Linked DNA regions of Homo sapiens: region 2 is linked to region 1. The links come from fine-mapping of genetic effects on gene expression. A gene starts in region 1. The other region holds a variant in brackets. All regions are shown on one strand. Distances are between the middles of the regions. Region 1 holds the start of CCR1 (C-C motif chemokine receptor 1). Region 2 has its middle 80 kb from the start of CCR1.

Region 1 (8,000 bases):
TGCCTACATGCTTATTCCCAGGTGCTTGCTGGTGGAGAAGAATCTTCTGGGTATGAGGTTCAGTGACAAAAGCAATGGAAGACAACGTGTATTGTATTCACTCACCAGTGTAAAAAAAAGTGTGTGTGTGCGTGTGTTCTATGTTCAAAGTGACATGAGAATCTGATACTGTTGTTCCTTTTGGGAAGAGAAATGGGGAAAATAAGGCGCCAGGGGTAGGCAAACTTAGCTCTTCACCTTATATTTTGTGTACTTACAAATATAAACAAATTACATCTCAGAGAATTCCTGTAGACCAGTGGTTCTCGAAACTTATTAGAAATGCAAATCTAGGTCAGGCATGGTGGGATCACAGGTCACACCTGTAATCCCAGCACTTTGGGAGGCTGGGGCAAGAGGGTCACTAGAGCCCATGAGTTTGAGACCAACCTAGGCAACATGATAACACACCCATTTCTACAAAAAATATATATATATATATATACATATTTTTTCAAATTAGCCAGGTGTGGTGCCATGCACCTGTGGTTCCAGCTACTTAGGAGACTGAAGTGGGAGGATCACTTGAGCCCAGAAGGTTGAGGCTGCAGTGAGCCATGATCATGCTACTGCACCCCAGCCTGGGCGACAGAGCAAGACCTTGTCTAAAAAAAAAAAAAAAAAAAAGTAAATTCTCAGGCCCCATTCCAGACCTACTGAACTTAATCTCTGGAGATAAGTCCAGAAATCTGTTTTAACAAGCCCTCTGTAGATTCTGATGGATATTCAAATTCGAGAACCATTGCTTTAGGCCAGGGATTCTAGTTCTCAGATTTTTTAACATATTAAAATTCCAATGCCCAGGCTGCACCCTAGACCAAGTACATCAGAATATCTGGGGGTGGGCCTAGGAGTCAATTGTCCTTCAAGCTTCCATGTGACTCTAACATAGCGGAGGCAACACTGGTTTCACCTACCTTCTTCCAATTCTGGGATCCACCTCTTCCCAGCCTCAAATCTTGCTCAGGCTTTAGATGTGATAACCTGGAGATTGTTTTCTTGGAGTTCTTCCACAATGGCCTCTGGCTCCTCAGTTCCCCACCATCGCTGATTTGGAGAGAGTGTGTGGCCAGAAGACAAGGCCCAGCAGTTGAATATGAGGTTGAACCTGATGACGGCCAGGGTCCATGAGCTCTGCAGGTGTTAAAGACAGAGTCATCCACATCCACCACTGGCAGGGTCCCCTGCATCTCTTCCCTGAACATTGGTGCCAAGGCTGGGGTGGAAGGCTGTCTCAGGACAGGGTTTGGCTTAGTGCTGGGCTTCCACTGCAACCTCTCTGGGGCAAAGGAAGCTGCCCACATCTCCCCCTTCTCTCCAAGGAAGAGGAACATTGATGTGGATCAAGGACAATACGGCAACCTTGAGAGAACACTACAGCTTTTAAGGAGAGGAGTCAAAGGGCTTTTAAGAGAAATGAATGGAGCAAGGTCATCCCTCTTTGCTGGTTTCTCTCTTGTCTCTCTGTGCTGCCCCCATTGTACACATCTGCTGTGGTGAGAGGGGTGTGTGCACTAAGGGGTTTGCAAGGCCATAGGAGACCTGAGTGTGGGTGTGGGAGGGGAGACAGAGCAGGCAACTGAGCAGCCTCTTGTTTAGGCCTTGAGCTAAAGAGAGAAAGAAGGCTTCCTAGCTCATAGCTGGTCCAGCCTAACTCTTCTGAAGAAAGATCACATGGGACTCTGAGCCAAAAGCATTGAGAAAATCTAGATCCATGCCCCCCAAATTTAAGCATGCATCAGAATCATGCCAGTCTTTGTCAAAACCTGGATTGCTTGGCCGCATCCCCAGGATTTCTGAGTCAGTATATCTGGCATGTAACCCCAGAACTTGCATGGCTAGCAATGTCCCAGGGAATGTGAATGCTGCTGGTCCAGGGACCTCACTTTGAGAACCACTGCTCTAAAGGACTTCCTCACCCCTTCCCACCCTCGATGCACCCTTCCTTAGCCCAGGGTATTTCCCAGGCCACTACAAAAGCTGTTCCTCATTGTGGTAACTTGGTTAATTGTTTGTGATCCTTCCTAAGCTATAAGCTCTCAAAGAATGGATCCAGCCTCTTTCTTCACCACTATATCCCAAGCACCTAACACAATGTCCGGCACATTGTGAGTACTGAATAAATATTTGTTCAATGAACAAGCAGATTTGCCTGGTACATCCCCTCTGTGGAATGAAACCTAGAGCAGAGCTGGAAGCCTGGTCAAGGATGAGGTACTGACCATGTCCCTTACTTTAGACAGGATCAAGGAAAAGGCAGGCCTCACAAGCCTCTGTTCTCTTTGGAAACTGATCCACCAGCAAAGTACTGCAAATAGCCAGGCACATGCAGACCCCCATTTATTTCTTTGGGGTGAAGCTGAGTGATGATCAGATGTCAAGCTTAGGCCATCTTGTCTGAATTCTTCATTTTACAGATAAGAAAACTGAACCATGAAGAGACAAGTGATCTTTTCAAAGCACATTCACACTGATGATTTCTGAAACAGTGCTTTGTAGCAATGCCGTGAGGAAGGTTAGGGGTGTCCCCACTTTATAGAAGACACAAGGGCAGAGGCAGAGTAGGTGTTGGCAGTTGTGAGGAGAGTCACAGTACTCATCATTTGTCAGACATTTTTCACTGTGCCAGGCACTCTGACATTTTTCATGTACAAGTTGACTTCGTGCTTCTCCTCTGAGGTAAGCATTCAATACTCCCATTTAGCAGAGTAGGAACCAAGACTTAGAAAGGTGAGTGATCTGCCCATGTCACAGGTGGAGAGCTGGGATTTGAACTTGGCCCATGTTTGACCATCACGTAAAACAGGAATGGGGCATCAGAAAGGGAAGGTCAAAATGTAACCAACAGACCTATATTCCCTTCATGCTGGAGGTTCCTGGGGCAAAGCCACTCTCTGAGGTTTGGTGGGGAGGGACTTGGGGAGCAGAGAGCAGAGGGACAATGAGCTCCCAGAAGCCGAGGGGCATAGGGTGCCAAAGAGAAGCTGCTGCCTCTGTGAGCACCCATGTCAGTTAGTTTTGAGGAACAGGACTCAGGGTTCCAGTTTAAATCCTTCCATTCACAATCTTTAAGAAGAAGAAAAAAAAGAAGTCTGCCGCTGACCACAAGAGCTCTATGCCCTGCCCCCATCCCACATACACACATCCCACACTTCAATTGCTCCAAACATTCTGGGAACATCTCACTGCCACCCACCTCACCCAACTCAGCTTCACCTGCCCCCAATTCCCTTAAGGCTGAGCTCCCAGGGCCAAGACTCAAGAGGCTCAGAGTGAGCAGAGAAAATCCTCGCAGTTAACTTGGCTTCCAGGAAGTGGCCACTGGTGGGCGTTGTGGCCATTCATGAGCACCAAACCACACAAAAAGAAGAACTTTGTCCCTTTCTTGTCATTTTGAAAGACTGTGAAACTGGAGCCAATTCTCCATCATCACACAGGAAGCTGAGTACTTCCTACTTGGTCAGGATCTTGAAACTTGAATTCATAAAAACCCAGAAAGCCCCAGAAACAAAGACTTCACGGACAAAGTCCCTTGGAACCAGAGTAAGTGTCACTTGTCTTTTCTGTCTTATCTGTTACTGTGGAGGGCAGTGTTGTTCAAAGACATGCATGCAGCTAGGGGCTCCTCAAAGGTAGGGGGAATTCTTTGAGTAGGCTGGGCAAATGTCTAAGTAGCCCATGGATGCATCTCCAAGGCAATTAATACTGTAGCAATACTGAGAATGGTGGATTTATAAAGCTGGGTGCTCAGATGAAATATAGGCTTTTTTGCTAAAAAGGAAGCTTACTTGAAGGATTGGCTTTTGGTTACTGATTAAGAAAGTCAGTCAGTACTAAGGGACAAAAGGTGTTTTCTGTGGAAACCTATTCAATAAGAAATTACTTGGCGGGGCGCAGTGGCTCACGGCTGTAATCCCAGCACTTTGGGAGACCGAGGCAGGTGGATCATGAGGTCAAGAGATGGAGACAATCCTGGCCATATGGTGAAACCCTGTCTCTACTAAAAATAAAAATTAGCCGGGCATGGTGGCGCATGCCTGTAGTCCCAGCTACTCAAGAGGCTGAGGCAGGAGAATCACTCGAATCCGGGAGGTGGAGGTTGCAGTGAGCTGAGATTGCACCACTACACTCCAGCCTGGCGACAGAGCAAGAGTCTGTCTGAAAAAAAAAAAAAAATTGCTTGCCAAATTCCCCCATGTAAAGGAAAACCAAACATGGTGTATGAAGAAATTATAGCAAGAGGGAAATATTAGCTAGAAAAATCTTGGCAGATGCAAGGATGATTTGATACTGAACCTATCTCTTAAGAAGACTAGAACCAAGGATCCTCAAAATTGGCACTGCTATCTTTGGAAGAGGTAGGCTTTCACTCACCCAAAGGCAAGGAGCTGGCCAGGTGATCTTGGGGGGCATCTGTTCTGCTCTACTAACAAAGACACAGGTCAGGATTTTGTTCTGAAGATAGAGGGGCATGGTGGCTCCGTATAGGTATCTACTTCATAGGTGGTCTTGGTGGGTCCCAGATTTCAAAGAAGAGATGGAAACTCCCAAAAGTTTGCACAACCTGGCACCAGGCTATGTGCCACTCACTGATCCTTTAGTTCCCGCACCGAGCAGTGGGACAGTGCTGGACTGTTCAGAATGTGGGGCCTGGGCAGTGATGTGCTGGTAAATGTTCAACAACTGACTCTTCTGAAGAAAAGATCCCTGCTTTATAACATTTGTTGATTTTCATGGTATAAATGCCCCCACTGTGGTCAGTTTCAAGCTACCAACATGCTGAATGTGGAGTGGGGAAGAGATGCACGCAATTGGCATTTATAAACCAGTATAAGCCAGCCAGCGCACCATAGGCCTGGGTGTCTTTCACCATCACAGACTGCTCTATCTCTGCTCAGAGACTTCACCAACTCCCAGGCTGGAGGACACTAGCAGTGGAGGGTCCAGGATCCAGGGCTATAGCTGACCACTGTGCAGTGGCCTTGAGGCAGACTTCTGCAGTAGACTACAGCAGGGCTGGCAGATTAGATGACAACATGGTCCTTTGGTTTCTCTTCTCGGGCCCCACCCCAGATCACCTCCCTTTAGGAACAGCATGCCTTGGAGTGGTTGCCTGGGGCTTAACAAGTTGGGGAAATAACAAATGGGTTGGAGGTAGGGGGTGTATGGAGGTGACTCGGTTTAAAATGCCACCTGACAATGTTGACTCAACTTGCCTTTGCCTTTGCCAAACCTTCCCAGAAACTGGACTCATGGGATCAGGCTTGCACTAGCTGCTCTTTGTGCTTTCCAAGCTATTTGCATACTTCCACTGTTAACCTGCCAGCCCACCGAAAAGTGCTGACTATCAAACCGAACTGTCTGCCCTCATCAGCAATGGCTGTGGCTGCAGAAATTAGAAACTGCCAACACAGCTTTGTTAGTGACCGTTAGCCTGACTCTCTCCAGAAAGAGGGCTGATTGGATCTCTCTGGAGATGGAGGAGTGGGCCAGGGGATGGGTTTGATAAAAAATTAAAGCTCCTCACTTCTCACCCTAATAGAGTATCTCCCTTTCCAGCCAGGGTGCCCTATACCCTCCATGTGCCTTAATTTCCTTTACAATGGCTATTGAAAAAAATGTGAATTGTGTAAGCAGGAAACATTCCTTAAGGAGAGTAGAAGGAAGAACACCAGAGACCCAGGTTTAAGATAGAAATTATAAAGTAGGTGCCACCTACTTTACTGATTGGCATTTGGGTCAAATCAATTTAGATTGGCGGCAATAGATTGACAATTTCAAATGTCATTCACATGGAAGGGACCATCATTGTCCACCGTTATCAAGAAAAATCACTTTCTAGATTAACTACAAAGAAATTTGGCAGGGGGGTGGGAGACAGGGTATACCAGCCAGCCAGGGACATCCTGGACATTGGTGCCTGGGATGTGCTGGTGGTGTCAGGCCTCAGGGAAGGGCTCCTGCAGTGAAGGAGTTCTCTCAGGGAAGGTCCCCAAGAAAAGTGCCCTGGCCTGGCTCTTGCCAGGCCCTCAATAAGGGGCCTGGCTGTTGCCAGGTGGTGGTGGTGGGAGGGTGATGGTAGCACTTTTCTCATACATTACCTCACAGTAGCCTTGCAAGATAAGAGTTGCTTTCCCACATTACAGATGAGGAATGAAGCTCAGAGAGGTAAAATAATTTATCCAAAGTCACAAAGCTCGTAGGTTACACCAAAGCCAATGCTCCATTTGGGGAGGCATCTTTAATAAGCAACTGGAAAGGATTCAAGTGCCAAAAAAGCAGGGACTGGGAGAAGTCCTACAAAGGCAACCTACAGAGTGATTCTTTTTTGTTTCATTTTTGTTTGCTTTAAGGCATCCGTGGGTAAAAATATCTAAGAGCTTATCTCAGCAGAATTCAGCTAGTCACTGTGTAACATCACCTCATAGCTCCAGACCATTCTGAACTCTTCCTCCCCTGATGCCCAGTTTTCTCTTTTTCTGACCAGGTTACCTCCCCCTTCTCTGCCTGCACTTTCCTCTCCTTCAGGAGGTCTGCAAAGTGACCTTAGATCTACCTGTGCCACCTAAGGACTGTGCAATGTGGGTCAGGCTCAGCCCACTCTGGTGCCCTCAGTGTCCTCATCTCCAAAATAATGGGGTTGACCTACTAGGATTTCACTATGGCAACACCACTGGTGTTTGGGGTAGAATGATCTCTGCACTGTAGGACATCCTTGGCCCTGCCTACCAAATGACGGTAGCATCCCCCAGTTTTGGTGACAACAACAACAAATGCCCACACATTTCCAAGTGCCCCAAGGGTACTAGGTCACTCTCGGCTGAGAATCTTCTTAGACCAAAAGCCATGAATATCTGTTTGTATCTTTCTCTGAGCCAGGACCATTTTCCTTCTCAGAGTCCTCCTGTGGGCTCCACAGTGCAAAGCTACTGCTCGGGGACAGCAGCAGGAAAGCGTAGTGGTGTCAGGGCCGGGCATGAGAATGATGCACAGCTGGGTTGGAGCTCCAGGTCTGTTCTCACAAGAGGTGTGTCCTTGAACATGTTTCCTAACCACTCTGAACCTCTGTTTCATCACCTCTTAAATAAGAACAACAATGGGACCCCTCCAGGGCTCTTTAACCCTAAGTCCAGTGCCTAGGCCATGGGGGTGCTTAGGAAGTGTTGGTTATGAATAGTATGGTAAGGTCTCCCTCTGGCTTTCCACCCATTGAACTTATCCCTTACAAAACTCTTTGCTGAAATGATTGAATTAATGATTTGTGCACTCATTTACTTATTGCTTCCACTCCCTGTTAGACTAAGATTCCTAGAAGGCAGAGAGGATCTGGGTCTCTCTAACACTCCATTTTGTCCCCAGGGCATGGTACACAGAAGGCACTCAATAAACATTTATGGAGTGGCTGAAAAAATGTTACCTCTCCCTTGTCTTTACTGTCCAGTGCCCACTGCCTTTAGTAGCAGAGTAAAGACAAATCTTTTTTTTTTTTTTAACCTGTAGGAGAAGCCGGGATGGAAACTCCAAACACCACAGAGGACTATGACACGACCACAGAGTTTGACTATGGGGATGCAACTCCGTGCCAGAAGGTGAACGAGAGGGCCTTTGGGGCCCAACTGCTGCCCCCTCTGTACTCCTTGGTATTTGTCATTGGCCTGGTTGGAAACATCCTGGTGGTCCTGGTCCTTGTGCAATACAAGAGGCTAAAAAACATGACCAGCATCTACCTCCTGAACCTGGCCATTTCTGACCTGCTCTTCCTGTTCACGCTTCCCTTCTGGATCGACTACAAGTTGAAGGATGACTGGGTTTTTGGTGATGCCATGTGTAAGATCCTCTCTGGGTTTTATTACACAGGCTTGTACAGCGAGATCTTTTTCATCATCCTGCTGACGATTGACAGGTACCTGGCCATCGTCCACGCCGTGTTTGCCTTGCGGGCACGGACCGTCACTTTTGGT
Region 2 (9,392 bases), 80 kb after region 1:
ACATGAGGGGAGGGGACATACATTCCCCCCCTTGACACATACAGGAAAGGACATCGGACCTGATGGTGACCACATTTGGAGATTATCTACCACTGGGTACAAACACATCTTTTTTAAAATTTCATCAGTTAATAGTTCCAGAAAAATGGTGCCCAGTGCCTCCCTCCTGAAGCCTCCTTTTCAAATAACAGAAGAACACTGAGGGCTTGAAAAGCTTTTGTCCTTCTTCCAAACATAAGCTAGGAGAGAATGGAAGGGGCTATTCTGGTCACCACTACTCTGTTCTAGAGACATCACATTGTCAGTGTTGAAGCCTTGACTGGTGCAGCCCCAGGGACAATTGCTTGCTGATGAGGCAAGGCCCTCGCTGCTCTGGCTCGCTTCAGACTACTGTCGAGGTGCCACCCACCAGCCTCCACCTGGAGGTCCTTCAGCTCACACATGCTCCAAGCCTGGAGCTCCATCGTTCCCAGGGCGTGGCCCCATGCCATAGTCGCTGGGCCAGGAGGCTGCTGGTCTTGGCTGTGCTATTCCATAATCTCCCTGCATACACACAGCAAAGCCCAGGCTCTTGCATTTAGCTCAGACTGCCTTTGCCCTGGTGAATTTACCTTTGCCCTTGGCCTACTAGTCCTTTCCTCTCACCGTAAGCCACCCTGCCAGATTTGCTCGACTCAATATCTGCAGTCCCTCCCCTAACAAGGCTTCTGGCTCCTGATGTGAAAGGGTTTCCCTTCTACTAAAGTTCTGTGTGCTGAGGGCTCCCAGGACAAGCAGCTTTCATCAGGCCACACACTGCCCTTGTGTCCTGCACCCTCCCTGAGAGCAATGAGATCCTCCTTGCTGCCATACGCTATACGCTTGCAGAACAAAAAGGGGGAAACACAAGGAAAATTGTTCCAGGGGATCGTCCTTCTGGAAGCCTCCAATTAATTAGGCCAAAAATTAATATATAAAGTAAACACCATTAAAATGATAGTGCAAATAAAACCACATGCTAGTCAGTAATTATCAATATTGGCAGAATAGATTTAAGTTGATCTTCCACAGAGAATGATTTTTAAAGAAAACAAAAAACCCAGTATTGGTTCAGTTGCTCTATTCACAAAGTTGGCTATATTCTCACCTTGAGTTTATGTTCCAGCCCAAGCAGAATCCAACCCTAAGCCTTTTCTTTGTAAGTTTCAAATTTGATATAACTTCAAATTTTATGCAGATGTTTCAAGAATAGTTCAAAGAACTCTGTCCAAAGATCATCTTATCCAGATGCACCAATGTTAATATTTTGCCCCCATTTGTGTTATTCTCCTCCCCTCACTTCTCTTCATATCTAATTTATATATTATTTTCCTGAACTGCTTGAGAGTAAGTTACAGACACCATGCCCTTAAAAACTTCCCAAAAATGCCCCATGTGTATTTTCTAAAAGTAAGGACATTCTCTTACATAGCCACAGAACAAGGATCAAAATCAGGAAATTTAACATTCATCTCATGCTGTTGTCTGGTCCATCTTCCATGTCTACATTTCGCCAATTGCCCTTAAATAGTCCCTGGTGAGCTGTCTTCCCATAACCCAGATCCAATCTGGGATCAAGCTTTGCATCAGTCACCTTTCATCTAGAAGGGCCTCAGGCTTTCTGAGTTTGGCTCACTCTTAGGCAGGCACCACGGGGCTCGGAGTCCTTCGCTTTTCTGCAGCCGCACCTGCTGCCTGCCCCAGTTAGAGCCTATCCACCTTCTTGGTCCCCTAAACCTCCCTGGATCATGCAGTTCTCCTTCATGCTGAACATGGAGTGAGTGTTCTCTGTTGTTTTCTTGTGACTTCTTTCCAGTCAGGAAAATGTGATTCTGGTAACTCCATGCTTGTTCCCTTTTCACACTAACCACAGTTCCCTTTTTACAGTAATCACATTTTGGTGTAAAAACAATGTCATGATAAAGGAAACTTCCTGAAAAGGAATGAGAACATAATCCTCCTCTAAGAACCTGTTCATTTTTACTTGTGCCGGCCTAGTAATACATTTTATACTGCAGTCATTGTGCTCATTTTTTTCATCTGCCCTTTCACGTTTTCTAAAATGCAAATTGTTCCCTGTCACTCCCCTCCTATGACACTCAGGCCAAACTGCAGACACGACCTAGTGAGGGCCCTGCCTACCCTCATCCCCTGACATATGGTCCTGGTGCTCCCCACGCCAAGCCACGCAGAGGCTCCTGAATACACCAGACTCTTTCTCAGTTGTATCCTTCCACCCCACTCTTGCGTCTGCTCCATCAGGCCCAACTAGTGAAGTTCGCACAAAGTGCCTAAGCATCACCTCCCTCCTGTGCCTGACCTCACCACTCCAGCCAGGGCCACTCCCTCACTGCTTGGTCCAACAGCGGTTATCAGAGTATCATTCTGTTTTGCAGATGGGCTTATGTGCCCGCCTCTCCCAGTGACTGTGTGTTTCCTGTGGGCAGCACCTATATCTTTTATTTCAATGTCCCTAGCACCAGGCACAGTGCACAGAGGTACCAAAAAACTCTGCAAGTGAACATTGTTGCTGTAAGGCCAGCATCCTTCTTTCACCCTGTGTTCCCTTCTAAGCTGTGCATGCAAACACCCATCTCTTTTGAGCATCATGAGAGCTGCCTGGGCCAGCCTTCTCACTCATCATCCCCACCACTCCTCACCCCCTTGGTCATGCCCCGTGTTCTCCAGCTCCTCTCTGGATTCTGAGTCTGGTTTGAGTCCCACCTCTCCCATGGACTACTGGTGTAATCTTGGGAAAGATTTTACCTTTATGCCCTTGCATTTCTTGACCTCAAATCCTTTGCCTCCCCCACCTTTCAGCTACCCACACCACAAATCTTGTCACTTCCAGGATCTGCCCTATCAAGAAATCTTTAGCATCTCCTTCTCTAACCACAACTGCCTATAGTGCCTATTCTTGCACATCCTCCTTACCATCACCCCCACCTGTGTTTCCACCCCATCAAGCACTCCCTAGAAACTTCGACCCACCATTTCCCCTGGATATTATCATCCCCTTGCTGTCTTCACTTAATTCTTGATTAAGTCACATAGTCCTTACCAGTACACTCCATTGACCACACGTGAGGTGGGTATGGCCTCATTACCCCTGGACACTCCCTGAACATACTCCAGGTATGCTCTTCTGAGATGCCTGCCTGGAAGAACCCAACCTTGACCCTGTCTCGCAATCCCATTTCTCTAGTTTTGTGCCCAACCTGCTAGAGAAATTCATCCAGGTGTAGGGAAAACACAAATCCATGATGTCTAACGTCAGCTGGCCCTCGGTATCCGAGAGAGCTAGATCTATCATTAGAAGCCATGGTGTCAAGTACTGGCTCTGCCATTTTGGGCCATGAACAGAACTTCTACCTTGTACAAACCCGGCAGCACCCTCCCTTCCCCTCCAAAGCCAGCTCCCTTCCCCTCCAAAGCCAGCAGGTTTAAAAAAGTTCCAAAGTCTCATAATATATAATGCCCCAAATTTCCAGGTTTTTTAATGTGGTAATATATATATATATATATATATATATAATCAAATGTACCATTTTAAACCATTTTAAGGGTACAGTTCAGAGGCACTAAGTACTCTCATATCACACAACCATCACTACCTTCCATCTCCAGAACTTTTTCATCTTCCCAAACTGAAACTCTGTACCCATTAAGCACTAACTCCTCCCTCCCTCCAGCCCCTGGCAACCCCTATTCTGCTTTCTGCTTCTGTAAATTTGACTATTCTTGTTATCTTATGTAAGTGAAAACATACAGTATTTCTCTTTTT[G/A]TGACTGGCTTATTTCACTTAGTGTAATGTCTTCAAGGTTCATCCATGTTGAAGTAAGTGTCAGAATTTCCTTAAGGCTGAATAATATTCCATTGTACCTATATACCACATTTCGTTTATCCATTCAGCTGTCTATAGATATTTGGGTTGTTTTCACCTTTTGGCTATTGCAAATAATGCACTATAAACTTGGGAGTACAAATATCTGTTTGAGTCCTTCCTTTCAAATCTTTTGGGTGTATATCCGGAATTGGAATTGCTGGATCACATGAAAATTCTATTTTTAATTTTTCGAGGAACTGTCATACTGCTTTCCATAGCCTCTGCACCATTTTACAATCCCACCAACAGTGCGCAAGGGTTCCAGATTCTTCACATACTCTCTAACACTTATTTTCTGGTGTGTGTATGTGCGTGTGTGTGTGTGTGTGTGTGTGTGTATTTCTTTTTTGCTAAAAGCCATACTATTGGGTGTGAAGTGGTATTTTCTTGTGGTTTTGATTTTCATTTCCCTAATGATTAGGAATGTTGAACATCTCTTCATGGGCTTACTGGTCATTTGTATCTCTTCTTTGGAGAAATATCGATTTAAGTCCTTTGCCCAATTTTGAATCAGGTTATTTGGTTGTTTTTTGTTTGTTTGTTTTTGTTTTTGTTTTTGAGATGGAGTCTCACTCTGTTGTCTAGGCTGGAGTGCAGTGGTGTGATCTCCCCTCACTGCAAGCTCTGCCTCCTAGGTTCATGCCATTCTCTTGCCACAGCGTCCCAAGTAGCTGGGACTACAGGCACACGCCACCACCCCCAGCTAACTTTTTGTATTTTTTTTAGTAGAGACGGGGTTTCACCGTGTTATCCAGGATGGTCTCAATCTCCTGACCTCATGATCCTCCCGCCTCTGCCTCCCAAAGTGCTGGGATTACAGGTGTGAGCCACCGTGCCCGGCTGGTTGTTTTCTTCAAATAGTTTTATAGATCAGCTCTTACATTTAGGTTTTTGATCCACTGCGAGTTAATTTTTGTATATGGTGTAACACAGGGGCCCCACTTCATTATTCCTCTGCATGTGGATAATATCTAGTTTTCCCAAGACCATTTGTTGAAAAGACTATTCTTTCCCCCCACTGAACAGTATACTAGTTGCCTAGAGCTGTTCTAACAAAATACCACAGGCTGGTGACTCAAACAACAGAAATGTATTTCCTCACAGTTCTGCAGGCTGAAAATCAAGGATCAAGGTCCTGGTTTCCTCTGAGGCCTCTCTCCTTGGCTTGCAGATGGCTGATGTCTTGTTTCCTTTCCCCCTGGTCATTCCTCTGTACACACATGCTCCAGGTGTCTGTTCCTCTCTTTTATAAGGGCACCAGTCACATTAGATTAACACTCAGTCCTAACAGCCTCATTTTAACCTAACCAACTCTTAGACTTTCTCTCCAAATATAGTTACATTCTAAGATAACAGGGGTTGGAATTTCAACATATGAATTTTGAGGGAATATAATTTAGTCTATAACAAATGGCCTTGGCACTCTTGTCAAAAATTATGAGAGTTTAATCGTGGGCCCTCTATTCTATTGCATTTGTCCACATGTCTGTGTTTATGCTATTACCATTCTGTTTTGATTACTATATCTTTGTAGTAAGTTTTGCAATTAGGAAGCGTGAGACTTCCAACCTTGTTTTTATTTCTATTTGGGCTATTTGGGTTTCCTTGAGAGTCCATATGAATTTTAGGATGAACTTTTCTATTTCCACAAAATAGTCATTGGGATTTTGATAGAAATTGCATTGACTCTGTAGATTGTTTTGTAATACTAATAGTTAACAATATTAAGTCTTCCAATCTGTAAACACAGGATGTCTTTCAATTTATTTGTGACTTCTTTAATTTCTTTCAGCAATATTTGTGATCTGCAATATACAAGTCTTTTACCTCCTTGGTTAAGTTTATTTCTAAGTATTTCAGCCTTTTTGATGCTATTGTAGATGGAACTGTGTTCTTAATTTCCTTCTCAGGTTGTTCATTGTTAGTGCATAGAAATTCAACGAATTCTGGGGTATTGGTTTTGTATCCTGCAACTTTGCTGAATTTATGTATTAGTTCTAACAGGTGCTTTTGGTGGAATCTTTAGGATTTTCTGCATATATGATCATGTCATCTGTGAACAGAGATAATTTTACATCTTCCTTTCTGATTTGGTTGCCTTTTATTTCTTTTTCATTCCAGTTGCTCTGGCTAAGACTTCCAATGTTATATTGAATAGAAGTGGTGAGAGCAGGCACCCCTGTCTCATTCCTGATCTTAGAGAAAAAGATTTCATTCTTTCACCATTGAGTATTATATAAGCTGTGGGTTTTCTTTCACATATGACCTTTATTATACTAAGGTATTTTCCTTCTATTCCTATTTTGTTGAGTGTCTTTTATTATGAAAGGGTGTTGAATTTTGTCAGATGTTGAATAATTGAGAGGATCATTCATTTTTTTTTCCTCATTCTATTAATGTCATGTATTACCTTGATTTATTTTTGTGTGTTGAGCCACCCTTACATTCAAGGATAAATCCTTCTTGGTCATGGTGTATAACCCTTTTAATTTGCTGCTGAATTTTGTTGTGTTTTGTTGAGTTTTGCATCAATAGTCATAAAGGATATCAGTCTGTAGTTTTCTTTTCATATGTTTATCTGGCTTCACAAATATGAGTTAAGAACTGTTCCTTCCTCTTCAACTTTTTGGAAGAGTTTGAGAAGGATGGCTATTAATTCTTTAAATGTCATTAGAACTCACCAGTTAAGCCAACTGTCTGGGGCTTGTCTTCGTTAGGAGGTTTTCGATTATTGAATTAATCTCCTTACTCATTATAGGTTTATTCAGATCTTCTATTTCTCCACAATTCAGTTTGATGGAAACTGTTCCTAGGAATTTGTCCATGTCATCTAGGTTATACAATTTGTTGGCATATAATTGTTCATAGTACTTTCTTATGATCTCTTTTATTTCTGTTAAAATCAGTAGTAATGTCTCCATTTTCATTTCTGATATTAGTTATTTGAGAGTCTTCTTTCTTTTTTATCTTTGCCAATCTAGCAAAGATTGTCGTTGATCTTTCTGAAAAACCAAATCTTGGTTTTATTAATTTTCTCTATTTTTTTCCATTCTCTTTTTTATTTATCTCTGCTCTAACATTTATGATTTCCTCCTTTCTTCTAGCTTTGTGCTTAGTTTGATCTTCTTTATCTAGTTCTTTAAGGTATAAAGTTAGGTTATTAATTTGAGATCTCTCATTTCTTCCAATGCAAGCATTTATAGCTATCAAAATTTCTAAGATTTAATTGAAAATCATTCGTCTTACTAAGGACCAGGAAGATCTCAAACTAAATGAAAAAAGGGGGAATGGAAATCAATAGATGCCACACCAAGAGATATTAGAATTATCTGACAATGATTTTAAGCAATTATCATAAAAATGCTTCAATGAGCAATTACAAGCACCCTGGAAAAGAAGAAAAAAATGGAAAGCTGCAGCAAAGAAACAAAAGGCTCAGGAAAAGCTGGGTGCAGGGGCTCACGCCTATAATCCCAGCACTTTGGGAGGCTGAGGAAGCACTTTCTCAAGGCTAGGAAGCCAAGCCAAGAACTGTCCACCTACAGTTCCTAGAGATTTGGATGAATTCCTCTCTTCTAGAGGTTCCCAAAATTTCCTGGGCCAGGAAGTGACCTTTGTTTCTCATCTGTGAGACTGGAAACCTATAAATCAGGTACCAGACCAGTTTGCCCAATAGGACTTTGTAAACATTGGCTCCATAAAAATCAGTCTTAGTTCTTAAAACTGTCTGATCATTTCTAATTCTGTGACGCATTCCCAAATATGACAATTGTTGCAGCTCAGGAAACAATTCCCCAAAGTATGACACTTTGGTATGCTGATTGATAAACAGCAGGAAACAGTGGATGCAAGCAGAGGTTCTCTGAGGTCCCCATATTTGCCTAAAAACAGATCTAGGAAAGATTTTCTCTCTGGAAAAGAAATCAAAGGTCAACACATCACCTAGAGAGGTTTTGCCTCAGGCTACCCGAGAGCTGCTACCTGAGAGGTTATATCTGCACAACAAGACAACTTTTGTTCACCATGGATTTTATCCCCAAACCAACCCCACTCACTGCCCCCCGCCACCTTCCTGTAATCTGTCACCATCTCCTCCTAGAAGCTTGCACAATTCTGACTGAAAAATTAAAGTTGAGCAAATTTTCCGCTCAATGGGTGCCAAAACCATTGCAGCCAGATTAGCTGCAGACAAGAGCAAAGCTTTAAACAAGGGGGATCAAGATCCTGAAGCATTTCTTTGAAGAACTGTGTAAGAGGAGATGGAACATGGCTTTACCACTACATTACTGAAGACAAAGTACAGTCAAAGCAATGGCTACCAAGAGATGGAAGTGGTCCAGTCACAGCAAAAGTGGAGAGCAAAGGTCATGGCAACAGCTTTTTGGGATGCTCAAGGCATTTTTCTTGCTGACGTTCTAGAGGGCCAAAGAGTGATAACATCTGCTTATTATGAAAGTGTTTTTGAGAAAGTCAGCCAAAGTATTAGCAGTTGAAGTTATCCAAGTCACTTGTGGCGAATTCATAGGGGTTTGCAGCAACCTCAGTTCTTGCCTTCTCAAAAGAAAGAATTTGACTAAGGGGCATAAGGCAGAAAAAAGAGACTGCGGCAAGTTTTAGAGCAGGAGTGAACGTTTATTAAAAAGCTGTAGAGCAGAAATGAAAGGAAAGTAAAGTACACTTGGAAGAGGGCCAAGTGGCCATTTTGGAGGTTAAATGTGGGCTTTGATCTTTTGACTTGGGATTTTATATGCTGGCATACCTCTGGGGTCTTGCATCCCTTTTCCCATGATTCTTCCCTGAGGGTGGCCCGCTGGCATGCAAGGTGGCCTAACACCCTGGAGGCGAGCATATGCAGTGTGTTTACTAGAATTGTATGCATGCTTACCTGAGGCATTCTTCCCTTTTCCAGTGGAATACCTACCAAAGGTCATACTCCACAATTATGCCTCTTAATGCTTGCCCAATTTTTGAGATGTTAATGGGAAGCGGCTGATCACCAGTTCCAGGTGTTTTAGCTATTGGGAAACTGCTTTTCCCTGGCAATTATGGTCACCTGACATTCCTGGTGTGGGGGAGCCTTCCCCTGCTCTGCTCATGCCTGGGTAGCTACCTACTCTAACAAAAGCTTTAGCAGAAAAATACTCAGAAAAGCTTCACCAGAGAGGCCTTCACCACAAGATTGCTCCTGCACATTCCCCCCATCAAATGTGGGCAATTTTGCAAGAGTTTCGATGGGAAATCACTGGGCATCCACCTTACGGTCCTGATTTGACTCCTTCTGACTTCTTTTTGTTTTTTAGTCTTAAGAAATCTTTAAAGGGCACCCATTTTTCTTTAGTTAGTAAATTTCTTATCTTTTAATTTCATTTTTCTATGAATTTTTTGAAGCCCCCTCATATAGCCAACTTATCTTTTACAGGTGCGTAAAAGCAATTCAATGGAGGAAGAATTGTCTTTTCAACATGGTACTGGAGGAACCCATAGGGAA

The links.
Region 2: its variant is fine-mapped to the expression of CCR1 in whole blood (INTERVAL, PIP above 0.99).

The regions. Positions count from the first base shown.
Region 1 is chr3:46,203,864-46,211,863 of GRCh38, reverse strand. CCR1 (C-C motif chemokine receptor 1) reads left to right here and starts at 3,551. Exons shown (of 2, transcript NM_001295.3): 1 at 3,551-3,582; 2 at 7,540-8,000. The coding sequence starts at 7,551. It also overlaps a transcript of CCR3 not described here.
Region 2 is chr3:46,123,315-46,132,706 of GRCh38, reverse strand. No RefSeq gene overlaps it. Among named protein-coding and RNA genes, the nearest start is that of CCR1, 80 kb to the left of the region's middle. The variant G/A (reference allele first, on the strand shown) is at 3,803.